Regions from separate parts of the Homo sapiens genome. Here region 2 is linked to region 1. Evidence: fine-mapped expression QTL. A gene starts in region 1. The other region holds a variant in brackets. All regions are shown on one strand. Distances are between the middles of the regions.

Evidence for each region. PIP is the estimated chance that this variant, and not a neighbour inherited with it, causes the effect.
Region 2: its variant is the best candidate, but not a certain one, in a credible set for the expression of RFC4 in spinal cord (GTEx, PIP 0.56).

What each region holds. Positions count from the first base shown.
Region 1 is chr3:186,804,154-186,808,549 of GRCh38, forward strand. It overlaps RFC4 (replication factor C subunit 4), which reads right to left and starts at 2,329. Exons shown (of 11, transcript NM_002916.5): 1 at 2,137-2,329; 2 at 430-571. The coding sequence starts at 560. RefSeq lists enhancers at 1,885-2,496, 2,497-3,108.
Region 2 is chr3:186,774,995-186,779,390 of GRCh38, forward strand. No RefSeq gene overlaps it. Among named protein-coding and RNA genes, the nearest start is that of EIF4A2, 6.4 kb to the right of the region's middle. RefSeq lists an enhancer at 825-1,659 and a silencer at 2,399-2,600. The variant A/G (reference allele first, on the strand shown) is at 2,203.

The sequences.
Region 1 (4,396 bases):
GCCTGGGCAACAGAGTGAGACTCCGTCTCAAAAATAGTAATAATAATAATAATACTTTCCACCTATTGTAATGAGAAGAAGGAGGAACAGATTACATATTTGGATTTAAGTAGAACTCCTGACCTAGTATTTATAGCCAGTTTACAGAAACTTTTGTTTTCTTCACTTCTGTATCCCAGCCCCTAAAATGGAAGCCTCTGCTTGTAGAGATCTCAGTTTATCTACAAAATAAGGGAGTTAAACTAGATTATTCTCAGGTAACTTTAGTTCCAGGGTTCTATGACTTATATAAGTGGGTGATTTTTTTTCAAAGACAACTTCTAAACAGAACAAAGCATTCCTCCATAAGTTAAAAAAAAAAAAAAGTGATCAGTACTGGTTAGAGAGATAATTTATGAATTATTTTAACAAAGACACAAGTGTTCTTACTATTTTTCCACCCAGGGAACGGGTTTGGCTTTCTTGTTCTCTCCGCTACTTCCCGCACTGGCAGCTACTCCTCGATCCTTGGTCAGCGGGGGTTTAGTACTGATGGATGTACCTTTAAGAAATGCTTGCATGGTACTTCACCCTGGTCAGGTGCAAGACAGAAAAAAAAAGCTTTTATTGAAACTTTTATTGCGAATCAGCACCATAGGAAAGCGGGGGTGGTGGTGGGGAACCATTATGAGAAAGTACAGCCCGAAAATAAACTTAGCCTTGTGCAAAGATGTTACATAATAAAGGACATCACCCCATGACCTAGGACACTCTGAATGCACTGTACTGAGGGCTACAAGAACAGAAAAGTGGTCAAAGTCCCTAACGAACTTAGAATCTATTTCTAGTGCAGGAGTTATAGAACAAAGATCATATGTCACAAAAATGTTTAATGAGTTCCAAATGCATTGATAAATATGATGTTGCTAATGACCAAACCACATGGGCCTCCATGGTTTCTTTCACAGTCATGGGCCTAGCTCTAGCTCAGACCCTGAAATGGACTCTTCGGCAATTAAAGGTGCTCTGCTTGCACCACAAATGAGAACCTTCACTCCTTTCCTTGGGTCAGAACTCAAAGACCTTTTTTTGTTGTTGTTGTTTTTGAGACAGGGTCTCACTCTTTTGCCTAGGATGGAGTGCAGTGGCGGAATCATGGTTCACTGCAGCCTTGACATCCCAGGCTCCTGTCATCTTCCCACTTCAGCCTCCCCAGTAGCTAGGACTACAGGTGCGTGCCACCACCCCCGGCTAATTTTTTAAATTTTTGGTAGAGACAGGGTTTCACCATGTTGCCTAGGCTGGTCTGGAACTCCTGGGCTCAAGTAATCCTCCTGCCCCGGCCTCCCAAAGTGCTGGGATTACAGGTGTGAGCCATCTCGCCTGGCCAGGGACCTATTTTCATGGCAGAGTCAATGCTTACCTACCTTCAGAGACTTTCTGTGGGGAAGGGAAGGTGGGGGACTCTGTTGTTAAAATAGAAACAGCTGTTTTTCTCATAACACACTCACTTGAAGAAATCAAAACAATGCATAAAAGCATGAGAGATTTAAAAAAGTAATACAAAATCCCACCCAGAAGGTAACTATTTCTAACATGCAGGTAAACATTCTTCCAGGCTGTTTTCAGGGATAAAAAGCATCATTAGCTCGCCTGAAAAGTCCCCGGTTAATTCTATTTTTTTCACTGCTACATGCCCTGGTGCCTAGAACAGTGCCTGGTACATGGTAGATGCTCCGTAATATTTGGTGAATGAATTACCATCTATGATACCCGGTTTCCTTTTCTGTTAAAGGAGCTAAGGCCTATTCCACAGGACAACTGAGTTAAATAAAAGAATGTATGCAAATACATAGTTCCTTGCTTGGCATATGGGGATATGCTCAATAAAATAAATTTTTAATATCTGTTAGCAGCCAAGGTTTTTATAACGTTACTGGATTAGTCCATCCCTGCCTCGGGCTGTTAAACATTAATACAGCCCAAAGCCGGGGCCTGCAAGATGCTGTCCGGAACCACCATTTCACCAAAGGGCGCGGCCAGGGCATGAAAGGGCCACTAGGCTGGGGCCCCGAAGGAGGTGGAAGACCTCACAAGGGGCATCAAGGGCAGGAGTGGGGAAGGCGAAGCGGGCTTGCAGTTCCTCCAGCAGGTTACCAGTTAGCCTGGCTTCTCGTGCAGGTCACCGCCGCCGGCTCGTTCCTCAGGTTTCCGCGATACAAAAAGGACGAGATGGTCTCGAAGTCTTAGCTCCGTCACCTAATCTGAGAATAACGGGCCCAGGAGACTTACGATCACTGATGTCCCCACAGTCGCCTCAGTTCCCGCCACGGAACGGCGGGCGAAAAGCAGGGCGGGAATACGCCGGTAGGAATACGCGGGCACGTAACGCGTCACTTCCGGTGCTGGGGCGCGCTGCTTGCGGAGGGAGTTTGCCCGTATACGGTTTTATTTAGGCAGGTGATGAGCCAGCCGGACTTTCAGGCAGAACTGGACTGGAACAGGCATGGCCTAGGAGGTGTCCCTGTCCCGGTGCATTGCTCCCACTTCAGACGTGAGCGCGACCCTCCCGGAAGGAGTAGAGGTCGCGCGGGCACGGCGCTGGGGCTGCTTACCTGGCAGGCTCAGCAATGAGGGCGGGGCGGCGGCGCGCGGGCCTCTGGAACCCTGCCGGTCCACCGAAGGTCCCGAGCCCGCTATCTTCGTAGGTGCGGGCCTCCGGAGGTGCAGGTCCCTGTCCTCCTTGTCCTGCTTCGTCGCAGAGCAGAACGCGTGTGCTTTAAGGGCAGAGACATCTGAAGATGCTTTGCCTTGCCCTCTTGAGGACACGTGGCTTTTACTTCTAATAGTGTCTGCGTGTTGTGGAGAGAGAAGACCATGCAGCTGTGGACATCTATTATAATTCCTGAGCCCCACTTAGAAATCTGGAAGTGAAGGCGTTCAATAAAAGTTAAAGGACTGATAATCATGTTTAGCCCCACCAAGCTTCATGCACAGTGGGCTAGGCTGGTGCCTGAGCCCACTGCTTTTATCTCTTCCAAGTACTTGGTTTAGCTCTGAAATGCTCCTTAATCCTATTGAAACCTGACCCTTCTCAAAGGCCACCTTCTCTACTGGTCTTTACTAATTACTAACCCATAAGGTTGTTCCGGGTCTTCTTCAAATGACTGTTTTGTTTGGCACAAACTCAGCATGATATCCATTGTTAACTTTGTACGTTTTTTTCATTTATCTTGCAACAAATGCTTACAGAATGTCCACGCACTGTGTTAGATGCCTGCAGATACAGCAGGGAAAACGCTCGAGATGCCCTCAAGTAGCTTTACAGACTAGGAGAGTGACAGACAATGTGATGTGTGGTTATGCAGAGGAAGTAGGGGGCTGTGAGAACTTACATCCCAGGCCTAACCCAATCAAGGGTTTAACCAAAGTAAGGATGCTTTATGCTACTTTGTAATTTCCACAGAGTCTGATACAATCTCTGGACAGTATAAAAAACACACAGGTTATCTATCTGGTCACCGGTTTACATTACCATAACTTATCAAACTGTATACTTAATGCTTGTATATTTTATTGTATGTAAATTATACCACAATACAGTTGATAAAACAAGATCTATGAAAATAGATGGTATCCATTTGCTACCTGAAGGAACAGCACAACCACAGAGAGGGGGATGTTATGATCTCATTTAACAGACAAGTTGGGCTGGGCACGGTGGCTCATGCCTGTAATCACAGCACTTTGGGAGGCCGAGGTGGGCGGATCACCTGAGGTCGGGAGTTCAAGACCAGCCTGGCCAACATGGTTAAACTCCATCTCTACAAAAATACAAAAATTAGCCAGGTATGATGGCAGGTGCCTGTAATCCCACCTACTTGGGAGGCTGAGGCAGGAGAATCGCTTGAACACGGTAGGTGGAGGTTGCAGTGAGCTGAGATCACGCCATTGCATTCCAGCCTGGTGACAGAGCGAGACTCCGTCTCAAAAACAAACAAACAAAAAAACAGACAAGCTGATGGATAAGTGGTCTTTGTCCATTTTGGCTGCTATGTTTATAAGCCATAGATTGGGTGGCTTATAAACATCATAAATTTATTTCTCACAGTTTTAGTGGCTGGGAAGTCCAAGATCAAGGCACCATAAGATTCAGTGGCTGGTGAGGGTTCACTCCCTCATTGACAGCTGTCTTACTGCTGTAACCTCACTTGGTGGAAAGGGCTAACTAGTTTTCTCCAGCCATCTCCTTTATGAAGGCATTTCTCCCATTCATGAGGGTTCCACTCTATTGAACCAGTCACCTCCCAAAGGCCCCACCTCCTGATACCATCACCTTGGGAGTTATAATTTCAATAACTATAATTTGGGGGTGTGGGGACAAACATTCAGACTACAACAAAGGTTAATAGCAAGT
Region 2 (4,396 bases), 29 kb before region 1:
ACCATTTTAACCATTTTTAAGCGTATACTTCAGTAGCATTGTGCATATTCATGATGTGATACAACCATGACGGCTATTCATCTGCAAACCTTTTTCCCCAAATTGGAACTCTGTTCACATTAAACAGTAACTCCTCATTCTCCCCTCCCCCAGGCCCTGATAACCCTCCTACTTTCTGTTTCTATGCTCATATAAGTGGACTCATATACTACGTGTCCTTCTGTGTCTGGTTTATTTCACTTAGCATAATGTCTTCAAAGGTGCATTCGTACTGTAGCATGGATCGGAATTTCATTCCTTTTTAAGGCTGAATAATATTCCATTGATGTATAAAGCACAATTTGATTTTTTGTGTTGTTTGTTTTTTGGAGACAGGGTCTTGTTCTGTTGCCCCCGGGCTGGAGTGCAGTGGCGTGATCATGGCTTACTGCTGCCTTCATCTCCCAGGCTCAAGCAAGCCTCCTGCCTCAGCCTTCCCCGAGTAGCTGGGACCACAAGCACATGCCACCACACCTGGCTAATTACTTGATTTTTTTGTAGAGATGGGGTCTCCCTATATTGCCCAGGCTGGTCTCAAACTTCTGAACTCAACTGATCTTCATGTCTCAGCCTCCCAGAGTGCTGGAATTACAGGCGTGAACCACCACGCCCAGCCACACTTGTTTTATCTACTGATCCGTCAATGGATGCTTGGGTTGCTGTCACCTTTTGGCTATTGTGAATAATGCTGCTATGAACACTGGTGTACAAATAATCTGTTTGCATCCCTGCTATCAATTATTTTAGGTATATACTCAGAAGTGGAATTGGTGGATCATATGATAATTCTTTAATTTTTGGAGTAACTGCCATACTGTTCACAGTGGCTACACCATTTTACATTTCTACTAGCAATGTACAAGGATTTTGGTTTTCCACATCCACACCAACAATTGTTATTTTCTATTTTTTTAAAAAATTAATAGTCATTTTGGTCAGCCGTGCTGGCTCACACCTGTAATCCCAGCACTTTGGGAGGCGGAGGCAGGAGGATTGCTTAAGCCTAGGAGTTCACGACCAGCCTAAGCAACAATTGAGACTCGCCTCCCAAGCCTTCCCACCCCGTTCTCTATTTAAAATAATAATAGTCATCTTAATGGGTGTGAAGTGGTATCTCACTGCGGTTTTGATTTGCATTCCTCTAGTGATTAGGGATGCTGAGCATTTTTCACATGCTCATTAGATCTTACTTCAATCTCTGGCTCTGGCTGGCTTTCTCTGATGCCGCTCTGGCCGGGGAAGGACAGCACAGCCTTCCTACTGCCAGCAGGAGGTAGAAGTCCAGATTTCTCACACACACCAGAGGGGATGATCCTTGTTACTGCTGGGTGGGGGCTGGAGTTCCTCATGTGGTCTCCACCGACACTACAATGAGGTGGCCTCATGACGACTGTGCGATCAAGTCCTGATTTCCCAGCGGGCCTTGTATAACACCACCTTAGTGGGATCTGAAGGATCACCTTTCTTCCTGCCCAGTGGGCCTGGAAGTTGAAGCTGCTCCGTGGTCTCCTCTGACAATGTGGTGGTGGTAGTGGCGGGGGTCTGGGGGTGGAGGTTGTCAGAGAACCTCATTACAGCCTCCCAAGGGTAGAATCGTGGGCTCCCCAGTTGGCTTTTGCTGGCATGGGTGTGGGTAGGACCACAGCTGCTTCTGTGGTATTTGGCTGAAATAATGGAATTACTGTCTACAACTTTTCTATCTTCCTAGAATGCCTCTGTCCTGGGTAGAGAAAGCAGCCTTTTGCTGGAGCTTTTCTAGTCTATGCCGGTTGGCTTTTCTGGGTTGCTAGCTTCTTCAGTTTTGTTTTGTTTTGTTTTTTTTTTTTTTTTTTTTTGAGGTGGAGTCTCGCTCTGTCGCCCAGGCTGGAGTGCAGTGGCACGATCTCAGCTCACTGCAAGCTCCGCCTCCAGGGTTCACGCCATTCTCCTGCCTCAGACTCCCAAGTAACTGGGACTACAGGTGCCCGCCACCACGCCCGGCTAATTTTTTGTATTTTTAGTAGAGACAGGGGTTTCACCATGTTAGCCAGGATGGGCTTGATCTCCTGACCTCGTGATCCGCCCGCCTCGGCCTCCCGAAGTGCTGGGATTACAGGCGTGAGCCACCGCGTCCGGCCGCTTCTTCAGTTTCAACTCAGGATGTGTGAAGGAGGAAGAAAACCC[A/G]GGGAATTCACTATCATGTGTATCTTGAGGTTCCTACCTGTCTGCCTTCTTTTCCCCACCTCCCAGAGTCTTCTTGTGTTTGCTTTATATATAATGTCCAGGGTTTTCAGTTGCACTTAGTAGGAGGAACAGGAAAAATTTTGCCTACTCCATCTCTCCAGAAGTAGAAGTAGACCTCACTGTTTGTAATGACTAATACACACGGCATACAATTTACTAACCAATCTTCTTTTGACAGCCATTGAAGTCGTTTATAGTTTTATTATTTTAATAGTTTTTTTTCCTATTAAAATAATGAAGGGCCGGGTGCGGTGGCTCAGCCTGTAATCCCGGCACTTTGCGGAGCCGAGACGGGTGGATCACCTGAAGTCAGGAATTCAAGACCGGCCTGGCCAACATGGCAAAACCCTGTCTCTTCTAAAATACAAAAATTAGCTGGGTGTGGTGGCATGCACCTGTAATCCCAGCTACTCAGGAGACTGAAACAGGAGAACCACTTGAATCTGGAAGGTGGAGGTTGCAGTGAGCCAAATCGCACCATTTGCACTCCACCCTGGGCAACAGAGAGAGATTCTGTCTCAAAAAACAAAAACAAACAAACAAAAAAAGAAAAAAAAAAAGAAAAAATAGAGGAAAAAATTTTTACCTAAAGTATGATTTCCATTATGTTTAAAAACAAACAGACATTCTTGGGGTTGGTGATTGTTTTCTGTCATTTCCAAAAAACGATATAACTATTATTTTTAATGAACTATATAGGAATATATGTATATATATAGTTTATATATACATATATAGTTTATACATATATAGTTTATATATACGTATATATAGTTTATATATACGTATATATAGTTTATATATGTATATATAGTTTATATATACGTATATATAAATATATAGTTTATATATATGTATATATAAACTTTATCTCATTTATATGATAAAGATGAAAGATGAGGCCGGGCAACGTTATAAGAATTAAAAGAGATAAATTCCTGGCCAGGCATGGTGGCTCACACCTGTAATCCCAGCACTTTGGGAGGCAGAGGCGGGCGGATCACCTGAGGTTGGGAGTTCGAGACCAGTCTGACCAACATGGAGAAACCCCGTCTGTACTAAAAATACAAAATTAGCCGGGCGTGGTGGTGGATGCCTGTAATCCCACTACTCGGGAGGCTGAGGCAGGAGAATCGCTTGAACCCGGGAGGCAGAGACTGCAGTGAGCCGAGATTGCACCACTGCACTCCAGCTTGGGCAACGAGAGCGAAACTCTGTCTCAAAAAGAAAACAAACAAACATGAAAGATGAGTTGGTTGTGTCACATGAAGAGGGTAGTATAGAGCCCCAGGTAATGGGGCACAGGAGTGGGATTCCAGATACCAGGCCCACATTTCTGGGGTGAGATTGCCAATCATGGTCTTTCTTCCATCCTTCACAGAGGTGTAGGTTTGTCCTGAAGACAAACCTGATCCTGGAGACTTCATGTAATCTCGAAGAGATGTGCAAACTGATGAAAAACAGTGATTTTTTTTTTTTGAGACAGTCTTGCTCTGTCACCCAGGCTGGAGTGTGGTGGCGCAATCTTGGCTCATTGCAACCTCCACCTCCTGAGTTCAAGCAATTCTCCTGCCTCAACCTTCCGAGTACCTGGGATTACAGGCGCCCACCACCATGCCTGGCTAATTTTTTGTATTTTTAGTAGAGAAAGGGTTTCACCACGTTGGCCAGGCTGGTGTCAAACTCCCGACCTCAGGTGATCCACTGGCCTTGGCCTTCCAAAGTGCTGGGGTTACAGCTGTGGGTCACCATGCCTGGCCAAAATAGTGAATCTTTGAGGTAAAATAAAGATGTCGCCCAGGCTGGAGTGCCATGATCATGCCAGTGCACCCTCTGCCTCCCAGATTCAAGTGATTCTCCTGCTTTCCTGCCTCAGCCTCCCCTGTAGCTGGGACCACAGGTGTGCGCCACCATGCCCAGCTAATTTTTGTATTTTTGATAGAGATGGGGTTTCACCGTGTTGGCCTGGCTTGTCTCAAACTACTGATCTCAAGTGATCCGCCCACCTCAGCCTCCCAGAGTGCTGGGATAATAGGCATGAGCCACTGCTCCCAGCCTTAATTTTTCAAAATCAGAAGCCGGCTCCACCTCAGTTCAGATCCAGTGAATCTGGGTGAGAGGGCAGAGTCCACAA